7 linked regions of the Homo sapiens genome follow. The protein of the gene in region 4 purifies or fractionates together with the protein of the main gene of each other region. This does not show direct contact. Each region holds a gene or a part of one and is shown on either strand. Other genes may lie near its edges. The genes, in order: PLD2, TXNDC5, KLHL26, ANKMY2, ARIH1, AARS1 and PBDC1.

Evidence for each region.
Region 1: the proteins of ANKMY2 (region 4) and PLD2 purify together in Homo sapiens (affinity purification with western blotting; one study listed by BioGRID). This does not show direct contact.
Region 2: the proteins of ANKMY2 (region 4) and TXNDC5 fractionate together in Homo sapiens (co-fractionation; one large-scale study listed by BioGRID). This does not show direct contact.
Region 3: the proteins of ANKMY2 (region 4) and KLHL26 purify together in Homo sapiens (affinity purification with mass spectrometry; 2 studies listed by BioGRID and IntAct, with this or other methods). This does not show direct contact.
Region 5: the proteins of ANKMY2 (region 4) and ARIH1 fractionate together in Homo sapiens (co-fractionation; one large-scale study listed by BioGRID). This does not show direct contact.
Region 6: the proteins of ANKMY2 (region 4) and AARS1 fractionate together in Homo sapiens (co-fractionation; one large-scale study listed by BioGRID). This does not show direct contact.
Region 7: the proteins of ANKMY2 (region 4) and PBDC1 fractionate together in Homo sapiens (co-fractionation; one large-scale study listed by BioGRID). This does not show direct contact.

What each region holds. Positions count from the first base shown.
Region 1 is NC_000017.11:4,810,152-4,813,651, reverse strand, and holds part of PLD2 (phospholipase D2), read right to left. Parts: intron 2,851-3,500; coding exon 2,701-2,850; intron 1-2,700.
Region 2 is NC_000006.12:7,890,289-7,893,788, forward strand, and holds part of TXNDC5 (thioredoxin domain-containing protein 5 isoform 1 precursor), read right to left. Parts: intron 1,449-3,500; coding exon 1,333-1,448; intron 1-1,332. UniProt on the Homo sapiens protein: Protein disulfide isomerase of the endoplasmic reticulum lumen involved in the formation of disulfide bonds in proteins. Can reduce insulin disulfide bonds.
Region 3 is NC_000019.10:18,640,028-18,643,527, reverse strand, and holds part of KLHL26 (kelch-like protein 26), read right to left. Parts: intron 1-3,500. UniProt on the Homo sapiens protein: May play a role in endo(sarco)plasmic reticulum (ER/SR) mitochondrial signaling. May be part of the ubiquitin-proteasome system (UPS) and affect ubiquitination and degradation of target substrates in cardiomyocytes.
Region 4 is NC_000007.14:16,639,255-16,642,754, forward strand, and holds part of ANKMY2 (ankyrin repeat and MYND domain-containing protein 2), read right to left. Parts: intron 1-3,500. UniProt on the Homo sapiens protein: May be involved in the trafficking of signaling proteins to the cilia.
Region 5 is NC_000015.10:72,480,830-72,484,329, reverse strand, and holds part of ARIH1 (E3 ubiquitin-protein ligase ARIH1), read right to left. Parts: intron 1-3,500. UniProt on the Homo sapiens protein: E3 ubiquitin-protein ligase, which catalyzes ubiquitination of target proteins together with ubiquitin-conjugating enzyme E2 UBE2L3.
Region 6 is NC_000016.10:70,262,007-70,265,506, forward strand, and holds part of AARS1 (alanine--tRNA ligase, cytoplasmic), read right to left. Parts: intron 3,097-3,500; coding exon 2,952-3,096; intron 519-2,951; coding exon 340-518; intron 1-339. UniProt on the Homo sapiens protein: Catalyzes the attachment of alanine to tRNA(Ala) in a two-step reaction: alanine is first activated by ATP to form Ala-AMP and then transferred to the acceptor end of tRNA(Ala). Also edits incorrectly charged tRNA(Ala) via its editing domain.
Region 7 is NC_000023.11:76,176,062-76,178,814, reverse strand, and holds the end of PBDC1 (protein PBDC1), read right to left. Parts: intron 1,935-2,753; coding exon 1,823-1,934; intron 1,200-1,822; coding exon 907-1,199; coding exon of another isoform or gene 798-906; 3' UTR 501-797; downstream 1-500.

The sequences.
Region 1 (3,500 bases), on a different chromosome or scaffold from region 4:
CCTGACCCCAATGATCTACCCGCCTCGGCCTCCCAAAGTGCTGGGATTACAGGCATGAGCCAAAGCGACTGGTCAGCAGTATCAAAATATTAAATGCATATACCCTTTAATATCATTAAATATACATGGTAATTACATGTCTAGGAATACATCTAATACAATGCCTAGGCAAATGTTGTGTTCATCACATTGTTTGTAAGAGTGAAAAATGGGAAATAATATAAGTGTCTAATCTCTCACACAGGTATTAAGTGAAAAAATAAGTCACAGAAGAGGTTGCATGATCTCATTTATGTTGAAACAAAAGTAACACGTGCATGCACATGTGAAAATATGCAGGAAGGCTGGGCAAGGTGGCTCATGCCTGTAATCCCAGCCCTTTGGGAAGCCGAAGCGGGTGGATCACTTAAGGTCAGGAGTTCGTGACCAGCCTGGCCAACATGGTGAAATCCTATCTCTACTAAAAATACAAAAATCAGCTGAGCATAGTGGTGCACGCCTGTAATCCCAGCTACTCAGGAGGCCGAGGCAGGAGAATCGCTTGAACCCAGGGGGCAGAGACTGCAGTGAGCTGGTATCGCGCCACTGCACTCCAGCTTGGGCGACAGAGCCAGACTCCATCTCAAAAACCAAACCAAACCAAAACAAAACAAACGAACAAACAAAACTTCCTTCCATGACTGCCCTGTGTGCCTGTGATATTAGCACATGGGACCCTGTGAGATCAGGTGCCACTGACTCCCAGCTTCTCCTCTGACTGCTCCTCCTCACTCAGTAACAACAATATGTCCTGGTGGTTCCCAAACACCCTGAGCTATTTCTGTCTTCTGTGCCTGGACTGTTCTGCATTTTCTTTATCTTGTATAGTTCCATGAGGATCAGCAAGTGTATGTTCCCACGCAATCACCAGTCCTATCAAAATATAGGACATTTTTATCGTCCTGGAATGTTCCCTCGTGTGCCCCACTATAGGCAATCATTTCCCCATACCCTGCCACAGGCAACTGCTGATCTGATTTCCATCACTGTGGATTGGTTTTGGCTGTTTTAGAAGTTTATAGCCAGGTGCAGTGGCTCAAGCCTGTAATCCCAGCACTTTGGGAGGCCGAGGTGGGCAGATCACGAAGTCAGGAGATCGAGACCATCCTGGCCAACATGGTGAAACCCTGGCTCTACTAAAAATACAAAAATTAGCTGGACATGGTGGCATATGCCTGTAATCCTAGCTACTCAGGAGGCTGAGGCAGAAGAATCACTTGAACCGGGGAGTCAGAGGTTGCAGTGAGGTGGGATCCTGCCACTGCACTCCAGCCTGGTGACAGAGACAGACTCCATCTCAAAAAAAAAAAAAAAAAACCAAAACAAAAATTAGCTGGGTGTGGTGGCATGCACCTGTGATCCCAGCTACTTGGGAGGCTGAGGCAGGAGAATCCCTTGAACCTGGGAGGCTGAGGTTGCAGTGAGCTGAGATTGTGCCACTGCACGCTAGCCTGGGCAACAAGAGCGAAACTCTGCCTTAAAAAAAAAAAAGTATATAGGCCAGGCACTGTCGCTCATGCCTGCAATCCAGCACTTTGGGGAGGCCGAGGCAGGATGATCCCTTGAGCCCAGGAGTTCGAGACCACACCCGTCTAATTTTTAAAATTTTTTGTAAAAAAAAATGTTTTTAATTAGCCGGGTGTGGTGGCATGTGTCTGTAGTCTCAGCTACTTGGGAGGCTGAGGCAGGAGGATGATTTGAGCCTGGGAGGTTGAAGTTGCCGTGAGCCATGATCACACTACTGCACTACACGCCTGGTGACAGAGCAAGACACTGTCTCCAACAAAAACCAACAAAATTAATATTGTGTCAGTCTCTGATTTAAAGCAAAACTACCTGAGGGTCACCACCTCCTGGAAACCTGTCCTGATATCCCTGCTGGGCCAGGTACTTCCTGTCTGTGCGTGTCACCTTCTACCTATCACCAGTACGGCAAGTTCACATTGTTTCACGATTTGATCACCTACTTCCCTAACCCAGAGAGGACTGTGTGTTACTGCCAGCACTGCTAGGTGCTTAGAAAAATGTTTATTAAGGCTGGGCACGGTGGCTCACGCCTGTAATCCCAGCACTTCGGGAGGCCGAGGCGGGCGGATCACCCGAGGTCAGGAGTTCGAGAAGAGCCTGGCCAACATGGTGAAACCCCCGTCTCTACTAAAAATACAAAAATTAGCCAGGTGTGGTGGTGGGCGCCTGTAATCCCGGCTACTCGGGAGGCTGAGGCAGAAGAATCGCTTGAACCTGGGAGGCGGAGGTTGCAGTGAGCCGAGATCAACAGAACAAAACTCTCTCTCAAAAAAAAAAAAAAAAAAAAAGAAAAGAAAATGTTTATTAAATGAAGGACTAAATCAGAGAGATTTGAGAAGATCATGGAGAACAGAGAGGGTCAGTATTGTAGAGAGGGGTTTAAAAGGTTATAGGAGGTTAGAGAGGTCAAGGGTCAGAAGAGATGACCAAGTTTGGGGGTCAGAAAGGTCGGCGCGAAATCAGAGAGATCAATGTGGTTAAAGATGTCAAAGGTCAGGAAGATTAAAGAAGTCACGGGGCGGGTCATTGAGGTCAGGAGGGTTCAGATGAGAAAAGAGAGGATGAAGGACTCAGAGATTACACAGGGGGTCAAGAAAGCCACAGACAAGCTCAGAAGGGATGTCAGTGTCTCACCACCGGGCCAAGGTCCCAGGCCGGGGTGGGGCGTAGCTGTCATGCCGGTGCAGCTGTAGGAAGTCTCTGCCTGGGCCCTGTGCCAGCTCAGTGATCTCTTGGGCCCACCACCGTGCCTGCCGGTAGCTGCTGCACTTGAGAATCAAGGACCTGGATGGGAACGATGAGATGTCCATAAATCCTCGCCCTCCATACCTGTGATCTTGCCTAGAGACCTCCCCTTTCCCACTTCCTCCCTTAGTCCCTAATCACAACTGCACAGGGATAGGGCGTGTATGTATCTGCCTTATTTATTTATTTATTTTTGAGACAGAGTTTAGCTCTTGTCCCCCAGGCTGGAGTGCAGTGGTGCGATCTCTGCTCACTGCAACCTCTGCACCCCAGCTTCAAGCGATTCTCCTGCCTCAGCCTCCCAAATAGCTGGGATTACAGGCACGCACCACCACGCCCGGCTAATTTTTGTATTTTTAGTAGAGACAAGGTTTTAGCATGTTGGCTGGGCTGGTCTCGAACTCCTGACCTCAGGTGATCCACCCGCCTCGGCCTCCCAAAGTGCTGGGATTGTAGGTGTGAGCCACCGCGCCCGGCCATATCCACCTTACTCATAGTTGGATCCTAGTATTGCATCAGCAACCAGTATTGTACCAGGCACTCGGGTTTGTTGAATGAACAAATGAACAAATGGAATTTCGTTTATGTCAGCAGTTCCCTTCCCAGGCTTCTACTAATCCCCTTTCTCTGGGCCCAGTCTAAGAGCAGTCCCAAGCATCTGGCTAGACCAGTTCCTGGTTCAAAACTAT
Region 2 (3,500 bases), on a different chromosome or scaffold from region 4:
ATGTCAGCAAACGGGGGTAAAAATACTATTTCAACACCTAAGACCCGTCAGAGAGCAGCTAAGGTGCGGAACTGAAGTACAAGAGGCCTCAGCCCAAGGTCGGGAGAGGACAAGCATTTTTAAGGGTCCAGTGTAACCCAGCCACATGTGCCAGGGATGAAGGGCTTCAGCGTGGTCACCTGGGCTTGTGTCTGCTCACGCCTAGGTCTGCTAGGATCCTCTATGGATATAAACCTAAAAGAATCTCCCATAAAATTTCATACAATAATTAAGTAAGGATACAAGGAATGGGGTAAGACAGTAGACAAGATTATTTTATAATTACTTCCCCGAAATGTTCAATAAATATAAACTGATAATAACATGTATAATTAGTATATATTATCGTAAGCGTTTAAGAGGCAACAGTGAAATATCCATTTAACTGACAACAAAAGTGATTACAATTTACCAAGCATCTGCCCCATGCTAAGCATCACACTAAGCAGTGTACTTTCATCTGCCCAGACACCACACAGTAGATCTTAGCTCAGTTTTGCAAAGGGGGAGACCGAGGCGTGGAGAGGTTTTTCCCAAGGTCAGCCAGCCAGGTCTACCCAACCCCCAAGTTTATGCTTTTGACCATCTCACCATCCCAAGTAGATCATCCTGTTAACCATCATTCAGTCCTAGACACGCAGCATTACTTTTGGATACAAATCAGCCCCATGGCAAGGTAGAAAAATGAGATTTTTAAGAAAGGAAATCTATGCATGGTGTCTGGTGGGTGCTGGAAAGTGTAGAAGAATAAAAGTGATGTCCCTGGAGCTACACTGGATATTTCCAGAAAATCCAGTTACACAGAAGTTGTCAGACACCACTCTTGGCTTCTCTGTATAAAGTAGGAAATGCTGGAAAGAATCCCAGGCACAGTGCAAACTGAGGGAGGGTCTTCTGCGTGCTTGGGGGAGCACAGAGCCAGGGTCCTTTTAGAGAGAGCTCTTGGGTGAGGTCGAACGTGGACGGTCTCCAAGTTCGTCCAGTGAACATTCTACAAGGCTCTACCCCATCTCTTTGCAGAACGGGCTCTGGGGCTGCCAATTCAGATTTGGCCATCTCTTCAAAATAAACAAAGCAGCCGAGGCCATAATTTATCTCTAGGCTGTGGAAAAGCCAGCAAAACTCAAAATCAGACTGCCATCTGTGAAGGTGAAATGAATTATCAAGTGGCACACTAAATGGAATTAATAAATCAAGTTTGCGACTTTGCACACGGAATGAATAATGGGCCACTCTGCTAATTAATCCAGCCCAAAGCAGTCCATTTCCAGTTTAATAAGGGCTTTCACTCACCTTGCCAATCTTGACAGTTTCGGAATGTTCAAGGCCCAGAGCCAGCTGCTCCCAGGTTGGAGCCAGGGCTTTGCAGTGACCACACCACGGAGCGAAGAACTTGATAAAGTGGTCGCCTGGAGTGGAGAGCCAAGGCAGAGACGGGGGAAAGAGGAACTGTAATTTATGTCAGACCTCACTAGAGAGTTAATTGAAGAATCAGATCTTTGTCCTGCTTAGCAAATCTTAGTTCGGCATGAGCACTTTAATTGGTACAAAGGGACTCCATCAAATGTGTTTCTGTTCATGACTTCATAACAATACTCAAAACCAAATTTGTCATCTTTGATGGACAATCAGCAATCAACTCATTATTTGGAAAACTGTAATAAAAGGAAAGAATCAGGCATTTCTCCCACCTCTCCTATATGCACTGTACCGCTGAATAACCAGGTGATAAATGAGGGTGAGTTTCTCTTGGTTAAAAAATGAAGGGACGCTTGAATGAGCCTCGGCACTTGGCAGCCCTAAGGAATGGACGGACCCAGGCTCTGCCTGTCATGGTCGACCACATCCCAAAGAGAGACAACTGGACGTTCTGTGCCCCCACCAGCTATGAGGTCTTCTTGTGCCCCCAAAAAACATCACACTGAAACTGATTTTGTCCCCAGACCCAACTACCAATTTCCAGGAAACAGAGAAATCAGGGAAACATGTAGACCACACTACGGGGACACAATTAGCAAAGTCTGGACCACGGGGAGCTCTACAGGTCAAACCACCTATGTCTTCAGCAAGAAAGATAAAGAGATGTCTGGAGAACATGCAGGTTAAAAGAGCCTTAAAAGATATATAAACACATACACATATAGAACTATAGTGCTCAGGAATGTGCACTTCAGTGCACATAAAGGAGTTGATATGGTTTGGCTGTGTCCCCACCCAAATCTCATCTTGAATTCCCACATGTCGTGGGAGGGACCAGGTAGGAGGTAACTGAGTCACGGGGACAGGTCTTTCCCATGCTGGTCTCGTGATAGTGAATAAGTCTCATGAGATCTGATGGTTTTAAAAACGGGAGTTTCCCTACACAAGCTCTTTTTGCCTGCTGATATCCATATAAGATGTGACTTGCTCCTCCTTGCCTTCCACCATGATTGTGAGGCTTCGCCAGCCACGTGGAACTGTGAGTTCTCCATTAAACCTCTTTCCTTTGTAAATTGCCCAGTCTCGGGTGTGTATTCATCAGCAGTGAAAACGGACTAATACAAGTGGTTTCCACAAATGTCAGGCAAGTGCCTTCTTGGAGAAGGGAGGGCGGGCTGTGCCCTGCATGGGACACGGGAAGCTGGCAGTTTTATTTCTTGAACTGGACAGTAGTTACAGTGTGACCACGCTATAAAAATTCATTAAGCCCTACATTTGTTTTCTCGATCTGTATTATATTTTATCATAAAAAAAAGTTTAAAAAATGAAACATCACCCCCTTGGCTACGGGGAAAAAAACAAACAAACCCTCACAGCATCATTATTTGGACACAGAAGGTGTTTAGCTGTTCTACCCTGACATTGGGCTGATACCAAACTGAAAGCAGGCTGTGGCCGGGGAGAGAACTAACCAGTGGCATGTGGCCTGGCGTCTGAGCAGGACTCTGCCACACTAAGGCTCACAGCTACTGTCTCATCAGCACAGCAACAATGCACTTGAAGAAAATGGTGAAAAACTTCCTTTAAAAGTTAACAACTTCCATTAAAAAATGTGCAAAGCTGAAACCATGTGCAGGTGCACAGTAGATCCTGCACTGTAAGGTGGAGACAGGCTCTCTGGGAACCTAATCAGAGTACTGATGGGAAGCCAGCAAGGGCAGGAAGCCACCATGGTACCTACACGACACAGCTGTGTGGCAGTGACCCACTTAGGGAGGCGCTGGCTAGGCCTGCCGGAGTCGGTCTGTCCTGCCGGAGTCGGTCCGTAACAGGTGATTTGGGAAACACACCCTGCTCAGAGCCCAAGACAATCCCAGCTGAAAATGCATTCCCGTAGCGGAAAGCATGCTAGAGTTCTGCCGTCAGGGCGCTGGTATGGATGAAATAACTTTTAGCAAAAGTGGGAAAAGGCTGAAGGCCTCACGATAAGTTACTGTGGACAGTAAGTGTGGTGGGGGAGGGGCTCTGACTCCCAGCAGGCA
Region 3 (3,500 bases), on a different chromosome or scaffold from region 4:
TAGCCTGGACAACAAGAGCAAAACTCTATCTCAAAAAAAAATAATAATAAGACCCCATCTCTATAAAATAATATATATATTTTTTAAGACAGTCTGGTTCTCTCGCCCAGGTGGGAGCGCAGTGGAGCGATCTCAGCTCACTGCAACCTCTGCCTCCCGGGTTCAAGTGATTCTCTTGCCTCAGCCTCCCGAGTAGCTGGGATTACAGGCACGTGCCACCAATCCTGGCTAATTTTTGTATTTTTAGTAGAGAAGCGGTTTCACCATGTTGGCTAGGCTGGTCTCAAACTCCTGACCTCAAGTGATCTGCCCACCTCGGCCTCCCAAAGTCCTAGGATTACAGGCATGAGCCACCGCGCCCGGCCCAAAACAATTTTTAAAAATTAGTCAGGTGTGGGCTAGGCACAGTGGCTCACGCCTGTAATCCCAACACTTTGGGAGGCCAAGGCAGGTGGATCACGAGGTCAGGAGATCAAGACCACCCTGGCCAACATGGTGAAACCCCGTCTCTATTAAAAATACAAAAATTATTTGGGCGTGGTGGCGTGCACTGGTAATCCCAGCTACTCAGGAGGCTGAGGCAGGAGAATCGCTTAAACCCAGGAGGTGGAGGTTGCAGTGAGTCCAGATTGTGCCACTGCACTCTAGCCTGGGCGACAGAATGAGACAATGTCTCAAAAAAAAAAAAATTAGGTGTGTTAGTAGATGCCTGTAGTCCCAGCTACTCGGGAGGCTGAAGCAGAAGGATAGCTTGAGCCCAGGAGGTCAAGAAGGCTGCAGGTAGCTACGACACTGCATGCCAGCATGGGCGACAGAGTGAGACTCTTCCTCAAACCAAACCAAACAAACAAACAAAAAACCACAAGCCGGGCGCAGTGGCTCACGCCTGTAATCCCAGCACTTTGGGAGGCCCAGGCAGGCAGATCACCTGAGGTCAGGAGTTCCAGACCAGCCTGGCCAACATGGAGAAACCCCACCTCTACTAAAAATACAAAATTAGCCAGGCTTGGTGGCAGGCGCCCGTAATCCCAGCTACTCGGGAGGCTGAGGTAAGAGAATCAGTTGCTTGAGCCCGGGAGGTGGAGGTTGCAGTGACCATGCCACTGCACTCCAGCCTGGGCAACAAAAGCGAAACTCCATCTCAAACACACACACACACACACACACACACACACACACACACACACACTAGGTGACTAGCAAAAGTGTCCTGGGGACTACTTGAGCTTGCATGGTCAGGCAGGTGGCTCTGAGGGGCCAGAACCTTGGAGAGTGGAAGGATGAAGAGGAAGGAGACGTGGGCAGGTTGAGGCGAGGAGGTGGGTCGTGCTCCAGGCCTGGCTGTCCCATTTGCAATAAATGAAGGAACAGACGAACAATGCTACAAAGACTCAATGTCTCAAAATGACTTTTGGGAGAATGTCTTGTACCAATCTCCCTCAAAATATGATCCATTTTCTGCATGCTCCATCTTGCCACATTAGGGGTTCTCCCCACACTAGCACCTGAGGCATGAGATGCCCCTATCAGTTGCTCCAAACAGTGATTTTTCACTAGGATGGAGGATAGGGGAGAATGACAAAGATGTCTTTTAAGAAAGAGGGCCGGGCATGGTGGCTCACGCCGTAATCCCAGCACTTTGGGAGGCTGAGGCGGGCAGATCACAAGGTCAAGAGATCGAGACCAGCCTGACCAACATGGAGAAACCCCGTCTCTACTAAAAATACAAAAATTAGCCGGGTGTGGTGGCACACGCCTGTAATCCCAGCTACTCGGGAGGCTGGGGCAGGAGAATTGCTTGAACCTGGGAGGCAGAGGTTGCAGTGAGCCAAGATCACGCCACTGCACTCTAGCCTGGGCAACAGAGCAAGCCTCCATCTCAAAAAAAAAAAAAAGAAAAAAGAAAAAGAGCCGGGTGTGGTGGCTCATGCCTCTAATCCCAGCACTTTGGGAGCCTGAGGCAGGCAGATCACCTGAGGTCAGGAGTTTGAGACCAGTCTAGCCAACATGGTGAAACCCCGTCTCCACTAAAAATACAAAAATTAGCCGGGTGTGGTAGCATGCACCTGTAATCCCAGCTACTCGGGAGGCTGAGACATGAAAATCGCTTGAACCCAAGAGGTGGAGGTTACAATGAGCTAGGATCGCACCACTGCACTCCAGCCTGGGCAACAAAGCGAGACTCAGTCTTAAAAAAAAAAAAAAAAAAAAGGCAACCCAACTTAAAAATGGCCCAAACATTTGAAAAGACACGTTACCAAAGAGATGAATAGCTAAGAAGCTCATGAAAAACTGTCCAACATCATTAGTTATTAGAGAAATGCAAATTAAAACCAAAATAAGACTGGGAACAGTGGTGTGCACACCTGTAATCCCACTTATTCCAGAGGCTGAGGCCCGAAGATTGCTTGAACCCAGGAGTTCCAGGGTGCAGTGAGCTAGGATCGCACCATCGCACTCCAGCCTGGGCGACAGAGTGAGACCTCATCTCACAAATAAATAAATAAATAAAAACACCAAATGAAGACACCAGCACACACCTATAAGAATGGCTAAAACTAAGGACTGGCCATACCAGGTGTTAGTGAGGATGAGGAGGAGCTGGAACTCTTGAACATTGCTGGTGGGGATGCAAAATGGTACAGCCACTTTGGGAACAAGCTTGGCAGTTTCCTAAAAATTAAAACATGGCCAGTCTCAGTGGCTCACACCTGTAATCCCAGCACTTTGGGAGGCCGAAGCAGGCGGATCCCCTGAGGTCAGGAGTTCAAGACCAGTCTGGCCAACATGGCAAAACCCCGTCTCTACTAAAAATACAAAAATTAGCTGAGTGTGGTGGCGCATCCTTACAATCCCAGCTACTCAGGAGGCTGAAGCAGGAGAATCACTTGAACCCAGGAGACAGAGGTTGCAGTGAACAACTGCTGGGCAACAGAGAGAGACTCCATCTCAAAAAAAAAAAAAAAAAAAAAAAAATTAAAACATAGCCAGGCGTAGTGGCTCACACCTGTAATCCCAGCACTTTGGGAGGCAGAGGTGGGAAGATTGCTTGAGCCCTGGAATTCAAGACCAGCCTGGGCAACATGGCAAGACTTTGTCTCAACAAAAGCACAGAAAAAATAGCTGGGTGTGGTGGCATACGCCCTTGTAGTACCTACCAGCTACTTGGAAGGCTGAGGTGGGAGGATCACCTGAGCCCAAGGAGGTAGAGGCTACAGTAAGCCGTGATTGCACCACTGCACTTCAGCCTGGGCAACAGAGTGAGACCCTGTCTCAAAAAAAAAGAAATTTAAACACATCTACCATATGAACTAGTCATTCTACTCTTAAGTATTTACCCAAGAGGATGAAAATATACGTCCACACAGAGACACATATCCAGATGTTCACAGCAACTTTATTTGCAGTTGTCAAAATGGAAACAACCCAACAGTCCATCAACCAGTTAATGGATAAACAAACTGTGTCCGTCCATACGAGATTGTATGGACGGACACAGT
Region 4 (3,500 bases):
ACAAGTAAGTGTAAAAGATTAATTGCTTTATTCTGGGAAATAAATATGTTAAATCTGATTTAACAAACTGCTGGGGGTGGAAGATAGAGTACTATAAGAAGGGATGTGCAAGGAGCCAACATTTACCTTCATTGGAGATAAGAAACAACAGACCTAAACTAATTAAAGTAATAATTAGTGATTTATTTCCCTTTAGAGAATTCCTCCAACTGCTCAAACCAAAGAAGAAAATACAGCATAACCTGCCTCATTAGGGTGGAATTGATCACTTTATCTGGATGAACAAGCATTTTAGGAGAGAAAAGATTATGTACATAATATTTTCCCAGCATGGACAACATAGTGAGACCCCATCTCTACAAAAAATTTTCTAAAAAATTAGCAAGGTGTGGTGGCATGGACCTGTAGTCCCAGCTACTCAGGAGGCTGAGGTGGGAGGATTGCTTGAGCCCAGGAAGTTGAGGCTGCAGTGAGCTATGATCATGCCACTGTAATCCAGCCTAGGCAATAAAGTGAGACCCTGTCTCAAAAGAGAATGATATTCTTAGTGTTACTGCTCTCTCTTCTACTACATTATAGCTTTTTCAGGAATACTATAAAGTGGAACAAGACCTGCAAAACTTGGCCAGGCATGGTGGCTCACACCTGTAATCACAGCACTTTGGGAGGCCAAGGCGGATGGATCACCTGAGGTCAGGAGTTTGAGACCAGCCTGGCCAACATGGTGAAACCCCATCTCTACTAAAAAAAAAAATACAAAAATTAGCCAGGTGTAGTGGTGCGTGCTCGTAGTCCTAGCTACTCAGGAGGTTGAGACAGGAGAATTGCTTGAACCCAGGAGGAGGAGGTTGCAGTGAGTCAAGATCGCGCCACTGCACTCCAGCTTGGGCGACAAGAGCGAGACTCTGTCTCAAAAAAATAAGTAAATAAATAAATAAAAGTAAATAAAAAGACCTGTAAAACTCTCAGTTTCCTTATCTATGAAATAAGGATAACAATATCCATCCCACAGTTATCTGAGGAGTGTCCTAATGTGGAGCACATATAAGCCTTTATTAGATCTTCTTTTTATTTTGTATTCAGAGCAGCACAATATAATTCATTGTAACATTTCTAATATCTAGATCGGGAACACGGGTCTCTACCAAAGACAAGAAGATGCAGCCAAAACAAACAGAACAGGAGAAACAAACATTCTGTTTTCAGCAATTCATCACACAACCATGAGATTCAAACACGTATAGATTTCAATCGTTATTCATTATTATTGTTTTAATTTTTTATAGATACAGGGCCTTCCTCCATCGCCCAAGCTGGAGTGCAGTGGCATGATCATGGCTCACTGCAGCCTTGAATTCCTGGGTTCAAGCAATCCTCCTGCCTCAGACTCTTGAGGTGCTAGGACTACAGGTGCACGCCACCGCACCCAGCTAATTTTTACATTTTTTGTAACAACGGGGTCTCACTATATTGAGACCCAGGCTGGTGGCAAACTCCTGGGTCCAAGTGATCCTCTTGGATCCTCCCAAAGTGCAGAGGGGTCACTCTACAGGCATGAGCCACTATGTCCAGCTGGATTGCAATCATTATTTATTGGAAGCCACGAAAACGGATATTTTAAGGAATATATAATCAAGTTAAGGATTTAGAAATCTATTTGGCTTTGTTAGTTGTTATAGTGTTTACGTATAAGTAAAATCATGTAAAAATGTTTAAAGTGCCTTAATTTTAAAACAAGAACATATGGATATAGATTTTGATATAATCATAGATATAAAGCTATAAATATATTTTAAAAGTGAAACCCCATCTCTACTAAAAAGACAAAAATTAGCCGGGCGCGGTGGTGCACGCCTGTAATCCCAGCTACTCAGTAGGCTGAGGCAGGAGAATTGCTTGAACTTGGGAGGCAGAGGTTGCAGTGAGCCGAGAGCGCACCATTGCATTCCAGCCTGGGTGACAGGGTGAGACCCTGTCTCACACACAGACACACACACACACACACATAGTGGAGACTTCTAATTATAACATGCATTTTGAAATCGTGAATTTGTGCGATGTTTCTAAAAGGTCTCCTACTCATATCTATTTTTAGACTTTGTAAAAAAATGATCTTAAATTAGTATTACAGAGCACTGTATAAAATTGGGAGTATCTAAAAGAGCTGTTGCTGTGAAAATGAAGACAATGAAGCCCATATAGGTTGCATAACCTGTCCAGCCATCCAACTAATGGTAACCATATATTTTAATTTTTTCTTTGAACTCTGTACTATAATTGGTTATAAGCAGACTTGAATGTTTCTCAACCATAAAGACACCAGAAGTATTATTAACGACACAGGACCTTAGAACAGGATCTTATTTCAATAGTCCCAAATTGGAAACAACAATTGGGCATCAATGGGAATGGATGCACAAATAGTAGTATATCCTTCCACTGGAAATAAAAGAAGAAAATAAGCTACATACTATTGGTACACATAATAAATATGAACCCCAAAATCATAATGTTGAATGAAAGAAGCCAGCCCCCCCTCAAAAAAAGGATACTTATTGTATGATTCTACTAATATAAAATTCTAGAATAGAGAAATCTAATCAACAGAGGCAGAGATCTGTTAGTGGTTGCCTGCAGATGGGGGTGAAGTTAGTGACAGATCACAAAGAGGCATAAGGACTTTTTAGGGGGTGATGAAGATGTTCATTATGTTGATCTTACTGATGGTTTCACAGATGTATGTTTAAATCAAAACTGATTAAAAAGTGTGTACTACCTGTAATATGTGCAATTTATTGTATCTCAATAGTTGGTAAGAAAAAGCCTTATTATCCAAACTTGTTTCATAGCTCCTTTACACAGATATGAAAAAAAAAAAGGAAGTATAATACTTTCTTGTTAGCAACAGTAAGCCCAGGAATTTCAGGTACTAAATAAGAGAAGTAATGTGAAAATTATCTAGCTCATAGCCTTAAAAAAGGTTTAATTTATTTCATAATAGTGCTTGCTCTGAGATTAATGAAAAAGGTATCAAAGCTTAGAAGAATGGGTAACTCTACAAGTCATATAAGCCAGTTAAACACAGTTCAGTGATTTCAATTTCCTCTTACATACTGTTAAATGAATGCTGTCATTAACTATGATTTAAATGGGTATGTTGGAAACAGATTTTCATTTTCATCTGGAACTTCTTGGCATTCTAATAAATAAAAAGCCCCACTTAGAGTCTGTCTTTCTGGAGAGCAGTGGCTGGCAGATGGGAATCACTTAAATATTTGCCGAGTTTATTTCAGATTGACCAAGATGCCAGGCTAGACTTTGCTGAAAAGTTGTTAGTTCAAAGTACTAGAACTTATTGTCTCATCTAGAGTTTTTCAAAGTTGAAAAACGTATGAAAGAAAAAAAAAAAAACTCACTTCACCCACTTTAAAAAAAATGCCTCTTTTTGGCACAAATATAAACTTTGCTTATGGCCTTTCTTCAACTATAAAATAAAAATT
Region 5 (3,500 bases), on a different chromosome or scaffold from region 4:
AGAATTTACTTATGTAACCAAATACCACCTCTTCCCCAATAACCTAGGGAAATAAAATTTTTTGGAAAAAAGAATATGTGGGATTTTTGCATTATTTCTTGTAACTGCATGTGAATCTACAATTTTCTTTTCTTTTCTTCTTTTTTTTTTTTTTTTTTGATGGAGTTTCACTCTTGTTGCCCAGGCTGGAGTGCAATGGCATAATCTTGGCTCACTGCAACCTCTGTCTCCTGGGTTCAAGTGATTCTCCTGCCTCAGCCTCCCGAGTAGCTGGGATTACAGGCGCCCACCACCATGCCCGGCTAATTTTTGTATTTTTTTAGTAGAGACGGGGTTTCGCCATTTGGCCAGGCTGGTCTCGAACTCCTGACTTCAGGTGATCCGCCTGCCTCGGCCTCCCAAAGTGCTGGGATTACAGGCGTGAGCCACCATGCCCGGCTGTGAATCTACAATTTTCTATTTTAAAAACAGTAATGAAAAAAATCCCCAGGTGATTCCATTACGTAGCTAGAGTTAAAAAAAAAAAAAATCAGTAAACTGGAGAATCTCAAATTCCTACCAATTCTGAGACTACAAGCTATTTTAAACTTAAGCCACTGAAAGGTTATTAGGAATGTTTATCATTTACAGGTATAATGTTTTGCAAAGCCAAAAGTAATTAATTTACGGTTAATCCAAAATAAAAAATCCAAAACACTATGTTCTCCCAATAGCATACAAAAAGATTGGATAGAAAGGCATTATACAATAGCTGTAATTTACCTCTTAACAGAGAGAGACAGAGACAAACAGCCGGCCTCTAAGATAGCCCCCAAAGACCCCTGCCTCCTGGTCTTCACATCTTTGTATAATCCCCTCCGATTGAGTATGGGCTGGATTTGGTTATTCACTTACAACAAATAGAATATTGCAAAGTGATGCGACGTTACTTCTGAAATTAAGTTATAAAAACTTTGTGGCTTCCATCGTATGGGCCTTTTCTCTAAGATCCCTCACTCTGGAGGAAACAAGCTACTGTGTTGTCAGCCACTTTATGGAGAGGCCCACATGGCAAGGAACTGATATCTCTGGGCAACAACCAGCCAGTGAAAATCTGGCCTGGTCACAGCCAAATGAGTGAGCTCGGAAGGGGAAGCTTCCCCAGTCAAGCCTTGAGGACTGCTACCCAGGCCAGACACGGTGGCTCATGCCTGTAATCCCAGCACTTTAGGAGGCTAAGGCGGGCAGATCCCTTGAATTAAGGTGTTCAAGAGCAGCCTAGGCAACATGGCAAAACAAAAAAATACTGGTCTCTACCAAAAAACCCACAAAAACAAAAAAATAAGCTGGGGTGTGGTGGTGCACATCTATAGTCCCAACTACTCAGGAGGCTGAGGTAAGAGGATCACTTGGACTCAAGAGGTGAGGGTTGCAATGAGCCGAGATTATGCCATTGCACTCCAGCCTGGGCACCACAGCAAGCCTCTGTCTTTAAAAAAAAAAAAAAAAAAGAGAGAGAGAGAACTGCTACCAAGCCGTCACCTTGGTTGCAGCCTTGTAAGAGACCATAAGCCAGAGGCCCCCAGGTAAGCTGCATCCAGAATTGTGACTCACAGAAACTATGATATAACAGATCCTTGTTTTTTTAAGCCACTAAGTTTTGGGGTAACATAAGGCAAAAGATAACCAATCTACATAGTTACCACAGGTCAACCCCAAAAGAATCTAATGTGATGACTTCTGCTTACCTTTCATCACAGTATTTAATCTCCCAGGTTCTACATTATTATCCAGCATTTATAAGCTCCATTCTACTTTAGCTGATTTCACCATTACCCAAAAACTCTCCTCATTCTCACCTCATTCAGTTCCTTAGAATGACTTCCTCTTTTTTATCCACCCAAATCCTAGCCATCTTTGACAACACCTACAGAGGTCTCTTCCATGAGTATCTATTACTATCCACTTATTTAAATTACTCACTAACCTAACAGCTTTAACTCTAAGAGATTCTCAACTCCTTAAGAATAAGTCTTCTCATATTCCTTTAAACAGGACTTTATATCTATCCAGGACTTTATATCTCTTCCAGCATACTAATAAATTAGAAAACTCAACATTCTATATTAAAAAAATCTAGGACTGGAAGGGAAATCAAGAACTCCAATCTAGAATGTCAGATGTCACTAGTTTAGTTTGTCTATTTGAAAATACTGGCCGGGTGCAGTGGCTCATGCCTGTAATCCCAGCACTTTGGGAGGCCAAGTCGGGTGGATCACCTGAGGTCAGGAGTTCGAGATCAGCCTGGCCAACATGGTGAAACCCCGTCTCTACCAAAAATACAAAATTAGCCGGGCGTAGTGGTGGGCGCCTGTAATCCCAGCTACTCGGGAGGCTGAAGGAGGAGAATCGCTTGAACCCAGCAGGCGAAGGTTGCAGTGAGCCGAGATGGCGCCACTGCACCCCAGCCTGGGCAAGAGAGAAAAGACTCTGTCTCCAAAAAAGAAAAGAAAAGAAAAGAAAATACTGAGTAAAGACCACCTTAGCTGAAGGATAGCATAGCATGAAGGATAGCATCTACGATGACAAACATCTTCCAACCCTATGATTAGCCTAGTAAACGTTGCCTAGGTTCTGGAAATTTTCCCATTATTACCTTTTTTTTGAAGTAGAGTCTCCCTCTGTCACCCAGGCTAGAGTGCAGTGACACTATCTCAGCTCACTGCAACCTCCAATTCCCAGGTTCAAGCAATTCTCCTGCCTCAAGTCTCCCAAGTAGCTGGGATTACAGGCACAGGCCACCACGCCCAGCTAGTGTTTCACCATATTGGCCAGGCTGGTCTCAAACTCCTGACCTCAAGTGATCTGCCTGGCACAGTCCCCAAAGTGCTGGGATTACAGGTGTGAGCCACCGTGACTGGTCCCCTATTATTAGTTTCTTAAACAATTTATCTTCCCTCATTAACCCACCTCTGTAGTAATCTATCACTACACGTAACACATAGAGAAACACTGCTATTAAATTTCAACTACATCAGCAGTTCTCAAACTTTAGCTTGCATCACCATCACCTAGAAGGCTTGTTAAAACAGACAGCCAGACCCCATCCCCAGAGTTTGATTCATAGGACTACTGCCATAGCAATTCAACAAGTCAGTGTAATTTAAACTTACAGCTCAAGGAGATCAGCTGGGAAAATATAAAAGTCCAAAAGAAATAAATCTAAACTATATCAAACACTTTAATAACTTCAAAACACATGTGCCTGCACACATCATGCACAGGCTTGTACACCCTCTTCCTCCTCTCCCAATTAATGAACATAACCACAATATGCACACCTGAATTCAATTTCTTGGAAAAAATGAACATCTCCAATTAACTGAGGTTTTTAAAATGATGTTAAACGAATAAAACACTTAATGTAAAAAAGGACCAACCTAGTATTTCAACTCCCTCATTTTCAGTCCCAGATTAAAAACAAAACAAGGCCGGGCAAGGTGGCTCACTGTGATCCCAGA
Region 6 (3,500 bases), on a different chromosome or scaffold from region 4:
AAGCCTAGGGAGACAAAGTAACTCATTCAGCAGCGGCAGAGCTCGAGGCTGAGTTTTCTACAAGGACATCTCCCCTTCAGAGAGCTGCCTCTCCTTTTTAATGTGCAAAGCTTGTAGGAAACTTGTACCCTGGCTGCAAAAATACTCCTACGAGGGTACCCGATGGCCAGGAAAGCAACAGGTACAAGCAACAGCTCCCTCGGCTTCAGAAATACCATGGAACCCAACCCAAAGGTGTGTCAGGTCTGCTCCCAAGGCCTGGAGCACTGTGGGGCAAAAGCAGCTCCCCGGCTCCACGCCTGGCCCTCCTCGGCTAACAAGGAAGAACTGTTGGCTCACATCTTCACTGCTGTCATCCACCTTCACCAGGTAGCCTTCGTCATAGATCTGGCCTCCTTGCTCAGCATAGAAACAGGTCTTGTCCAGCACCACTCCACACTCCTGGCCTGTGGACACCTCTTCCACGAACATCTTCTCCCTGCGCAGAGCCATCACCGTAGCCACTGTGTTCTCAAATACTGCTCAAGGGAAATGCATAGAAAGGGGACAGTGGGGTCAATGACCTTTTCACTCCTTCTTGGCTGACTTTTGCTGGATTCTCTTTCGCAAACTCTTCTTAGCTCCTAATTGTCCAATTGTATTTTGGAAGCAAACTCATTAGACAATATGAAAGGGCTTCGCGGCCGGGCGCGGTGGCTCCCCCTATAATCCCAGCACTTTGGGAGGTCGAGGCAGGCGGATCACGGGGTCAAGAGATCGAGACCATCCTGGCTAACACGCTGAAACCCTGTCTCTACCAAAAATACAAAACATTAGCCGGGTGTGGTGGCGGGCACCTGTAGTCCCAGCTACTCAGGAGGCTGAGGCAGAAGAATGGCGTGAACCCAGGAGGCGGAGCTTGCAGTGAGCCGAGATTGTGCCACTCCACTCCAGCCTGGGTGACAAAGCAAGACTCGGTCTCAAAAAAAAAAAAAAAAAAAAAAAAAAAAAAACAACAACAACAAAGGGCTTCGCATGCTGGCTTTCCATCAAAGAATGCAACACTCTGTCGGGTGACCAACTGTCCCAATTTTTAGGACTGAGGGGTTTCCTGGGATGCAGGCTTCAGTGTTAAAACTGGGACAATGGGTTACCCTAACTCTGAGCTACTGAACAGAAACTTGGTGCATCAGATTAGTAGATCTTTAAGAGTAGTAATAAATTCCCTAGTCCAAGGTCAACTCACAAAGAATGTACTCATTTTGTAGGCTTGCTTGAATAGATTTAGGTGTAAGATTGTTCTCAGCCGGGCACGGTGGCTCACACCTGTCATCCTGGCACTTTGTGAGGCTGAGACGGGTGGATAACCTGAGCTCAGCAGTTTGAGACCAGCCTGGCCAACACGGTGAAACCCCGTGTCCACTACAATACAAAAATTAGCCAGGTGTGGTGGCACATGCCTGTAATCCCAGTTAATTGGGAGGCTGAGGCAGGAGAATCACTTCAAGCTGGGAGGCAGAAGTTGCAGTGAGCCGAGAATGCGCCACTGCACTCCAGCCTGGGTGACAGAGCGAAACTCCATCTCAAAAAAAAAAAAAAGATTGTTCTCTACCAGGGCAAAAAAGCTGCAAAAACATGTATTGCCAATTTATTTTTATGTTTTTTTTGAGACAGGGTCTCACTCTGTAGCCCAGGCTGGAGTGCAGTGGCACAAATATGGCTGACTGCAGCCTCTCAATCTCCCAGGCTCAAGTGATCCTCCTGCCTCAGCCCCACAAATAGCTGGGACTACAGGCATGCGCCACCACACCTAGCTAATTTTTGTATTTCTGGTAGAGACAGGGTTTCGCCATGTTGCCCAGACTGGTCTCAAACACCAGAGCTCAACTGATCAGCCCACCCTGGCATCCCGAAGTGCTGGGATTACAGGCATGAGTCATTGCACTGGCTTTGTTTCTTAACTTTAGAATACTATTATCCGGTCGGGCGAGATGGCTTACGCCTGTAATCCCAGCACTTTGGGAGGCCAAGGCAGGCAGATCATGAGGTCAGGAGTTTGAGACCTGCCTGGCAAACATGGTGAAACCCTGTCTCTACTAAAAACACAAAAATCAGCCGGGTGTGGTGGTGCGTGGCTGTAATCCCAGCTACTTGGGAGGCTGAGGCCGGAGAATCGCTTGAACCCAGGAGGTGGAGGTTGCAGTGAGCCGAGATCACACTATTGCACTCCAGCCTGGGCAACAGAGGGAGATTCCATCTCAGAAAAAAAAAAGAATGCTATTAGGATAATAGCATTCTAACAGCATTAGGATAATAGAATCCTAATAGCATTCTTTTTCTTTTTCCCCGAGACGGAATTTCACTCTTGTTGTCCAGGCTGGAGTGCAATGGCATGATCTTGGCTCACTGCAACCTCTGCCTCCCAGGTTCAGGCGATTCTCCTGCCTCAGCCTCCCGAGTAGCTGGGATTACAGGGGCACGCCACCACGCCCGGCTAATTTCCGTATTTTTAGTAGAGATGGGGTTTCATCATGTTGGTCAGGCTGGTCTCAAACTCCTGACCTTAGGTGATCCACCTGCCCCGGCCTCCCAAAGTGTTGGGATTACAGGTGTGAGGCACAGCGCCAGGCCCCTAATAGCATTCTGATAGTCACTGTGGATTGTATCAATGTCAATTGCCCAGTTTCCTGCATGATGTTACAATTAGGGGAAACTGGATAAAAGGGTGTGAGACCCTTCCTACAAATTTTTTTTTTTTACAACTTCCTGTGACAATAATTATTTCAAAATAGAGTTAAGAAAACCTCCAGCCAAGGGTGCCTATGTGTATAAAAGTGCATAGCGTGACTGTACGGCACTCCAGGAGAGGCTGTCAGCAGTCTGCTGGAGAGCTAATCTTGAGAAACAATCTTTCAAATACCCCCCAGATACGGGGCAGAATGCTCAGATGTGGAAGGAGCACAGCAACATACCATAGCTACCACTGGAGTCCAAATGGTAATTGTACTTTGGGGAATCATCTGTGACCTCCAGACCCCGTGCCCGGAGCTCTTCGATAGCGTAAATGTCCAGCATAATGAGGTCTTCCCCACCAGCTCCCTTGCCCTGTGATTTCAGCTGTCAGCAAGAGAAACAAGCATAAGTTACCGTAAAGTAGGAGAAAAGGGACTCCAAAGGACTGGAACTTGCTAAACTATGCCCAGCATAAACTGCCAGAACAGGGTTTTTCAATCCTGGCACTACTGACATTTGGGGCCAGATCATTCTCTGTTGTGGAAACTTCTCTTGCAGTGTGGGATGCTGAGGGGCACCCTGGCCTCTACCAAGTACGTGACAGCAGGATCTGCCCCTAGTTGTGAAAATCAAAAATGTCTTCAGACATTATCGCCAATTACTCCCTGGAAGGCAGACTCGCCCCCACTTGAGAACCACTGATCTAGGGGAAAAAGCACTTCAAAGACTTTAATGGAAGGAAACTCATGCTCAGTCTGCAGCCAAGTGGTGCTGGGTTGGAAGGTGTT
Region 7 (2,753 bases), on a different chromosome or scaffold from region 4:
CTAAAAATACAAAAAATTAGCTGGGCATGGTGGCACGCACCTGTAGTCCCAGCTACTTGGGAGGCTGAGGCAGGAGAATCACTTGAACCCAGGAGGCCAAGGTTGCAGTGAGCCAAGATTGTGCCACTACACTCCAGCCTGGGAGTCAGAGTAAGACTCCATCTCCAAAAAAAAAAAAAAGGGGGTAGCTACTCTGTCTGGTTTTCCCTTTTTTTTTTTTTTTTTTTTGCTAGCTTTCAGGTAACATTCTGGCTACCAAAAGAAAAGCAAATACTGAAGCATGTCCAGTCTCTTGCTCTTCTAATATGAACTGGGCTGCATTCACTAGTTTGACAGGTTCAGGTTGCTGCTATTTATCAAATATTTTGTCATATATAGCAAAGAAATCAGGGAGTTATAGTCACTCAGAGATTAAGAGTCAATTCTTATGTAAGGACTTCTAATCCCAACACCAGGTATAACTTAACAAGTTTAGAGAACTTCACTACAGGAAACAGTGAGAAGCAGTAAGAAACAGGAGTAAATTATCTTATATAAGACATGGTGATGAGATTACATATTTGAAAAAAATTTCAAGTGTCAAATACCTTTTTAAAGTCAGTCACAGATATAGATAATAAGAACCAAAAGAAATTTATTTACAAATTTCTTACTTGACCAGTAGTGTCAGCCAAGAAACAGTATACCAGGAAAAATCAACTAACACCCCACTAACAGTCTTTAGACCAGTTCATACAAGGGAATGACCAGAGCAGCTCCTGACTGTTAGACTAGAAAGATGTCCTTCTGCGTATCCTTCAATTGTACAAGAATTTACATTTAACCAAAGGGGTCTGTGCAAGTAGCACCGTGGTACTTGTAGTCTCAATTGAGTCATAGCTTCTAGAGTGCTGTTCCCTGTATACCTTACATAGCTTTTTCACCACTTTTGTTGATTTCTTTGTCAGCTTCTTTCCCTTTTTCTCCTCCTTTGTCAGTTTTGTCTTCTCTGTTGATTCCTTCCTCTTTTTCTTCTCCACTATCAGCTCCTTTCTCTCCTCCATTCTTGGTGTTCTCTTCTTCTCCACTGTCAGCTCTTTTTTCTCCTCCATTGTTGACTCCTTTCTCTCCTTCTTTGTCCTGAACACTGATATAAACAGCTTTGTTATAGCCTTCCCGGTTCCGAGCAATTTCAATGGCAAAGAATTGTATCCTGGGGGCTGAAAAGTGAACAGAATTGATTATCATCCTACTCTCAGCTTATTCCCTAAATCTCTTTTTTTTGAGACAGGGTCTCACTCTGATGACCAGGGCTGGACTGCAGTGGCACAATCACAGCTTACTGCAGCCTCAATTTCCCTGGTTCAAGCAATCCTCCTGCCTCAATCTCCTGAATAGCTGGAACTACAAACACTCACCACTATACCTGGCTAATTTTTTAAACATTTTTGTAGAGATGGGGTCTCCCTATGTTGCCCAGGCTGGTCTCAAAATCCTCAGCTCAAGTGATCCTCCCATGTCAGCCTCCCAAAGTGCTGGTATTACAAGGCATGAGACACTGTGCCTGGCCTGTTCCCTAAATATGCTGGAAATCTACTGACAAAATTGAAATAACATGCAAACCATTCCAGTATAGTCATAAACTTCAGAGATCTTTAATTCCAATCTCATATTAATGAGATTGAAAATACTTAACTATCTTCAAGTTACATAAAAATAGCAACAAGATCTTTAAAGATGAAACAAGATAAGGTGACCTAACTATACACATCACTGATTCATCAGTAAAGCCAGACTGTTCAGTCTCCTTACACAGAAACAATTCCAGAGGGAAGAAACTCACCAAAGATGGTGTTTTCCTCAGTGTAGCCCTGAGAACAATCTAGTCGCAGCAAAGTACCATAGTTGAAGTCTTCAACAATCCCATTAAACTTCAAGCAGAATGGCCTCCACTTCTATAAAGGCAAAAACGATGCTTTAGCTGACAAATGCAAGAGGCTGACGTACTAAGGCCAGGAGAGGGACTTCCATTTTCCCAGTAAGGAAAATAATCATAGTGAGACTGGGATTGAGGTGATTGTTGGTTTCACAGTGAAACTAGCAATGCGTTTCTGTGCTACCTATTGTGTCTTTAGACTGCCATTTCCCAAGATGAACAATATTTTACTCTGAAAAATATATAAATCCTTTACTGCAGAATTAAAATATTATTTCTTAAGTCAATTGTTTTGTTTTGAAGTTATTGGTCAGTTCAGCCCAAAATGGTCATCTATCCCCACTAAAACACAAATGATTTTAATAAAGAAGTCCATTCAGTAGTGACAGTTTTCCAAAGACAAAGATCACTAACTGCCTGCTAGGAGTTAAAAGTGTAGTTTCTTGGCTGGGTGTGGTGGCTCACGCCTGCAATCCCAGCACTTTGAAAGACCGAGGCGGGCGGATCGCTTGAGCTCAGGAGTTTAAGACCAGCCTGGTCAACATGGTGAAACCCTGTCTCTACCAAAAATACAAAATATTAGCTGGGCATGGTAGCATGCACCTGCAGTCCCACCTACTAGGGAGGCTGAAGCAGGAGGACTGTTTGAGCTTGAGAGGCGGAGGTTGCAGTGAGCTGAGATGGCACCACCGCACTCCAGCCTGGGCAACAGAGTGAGACCCTGTATCAAAAAAAAAAAACCAAAAAACAAAAAACAAAACAAAACAAACAAACAAACAAAAACTTTAGATTCTTCATTAGCCAAGGGTTTACTCTCAAGGAAAACATTTTTTTCCTA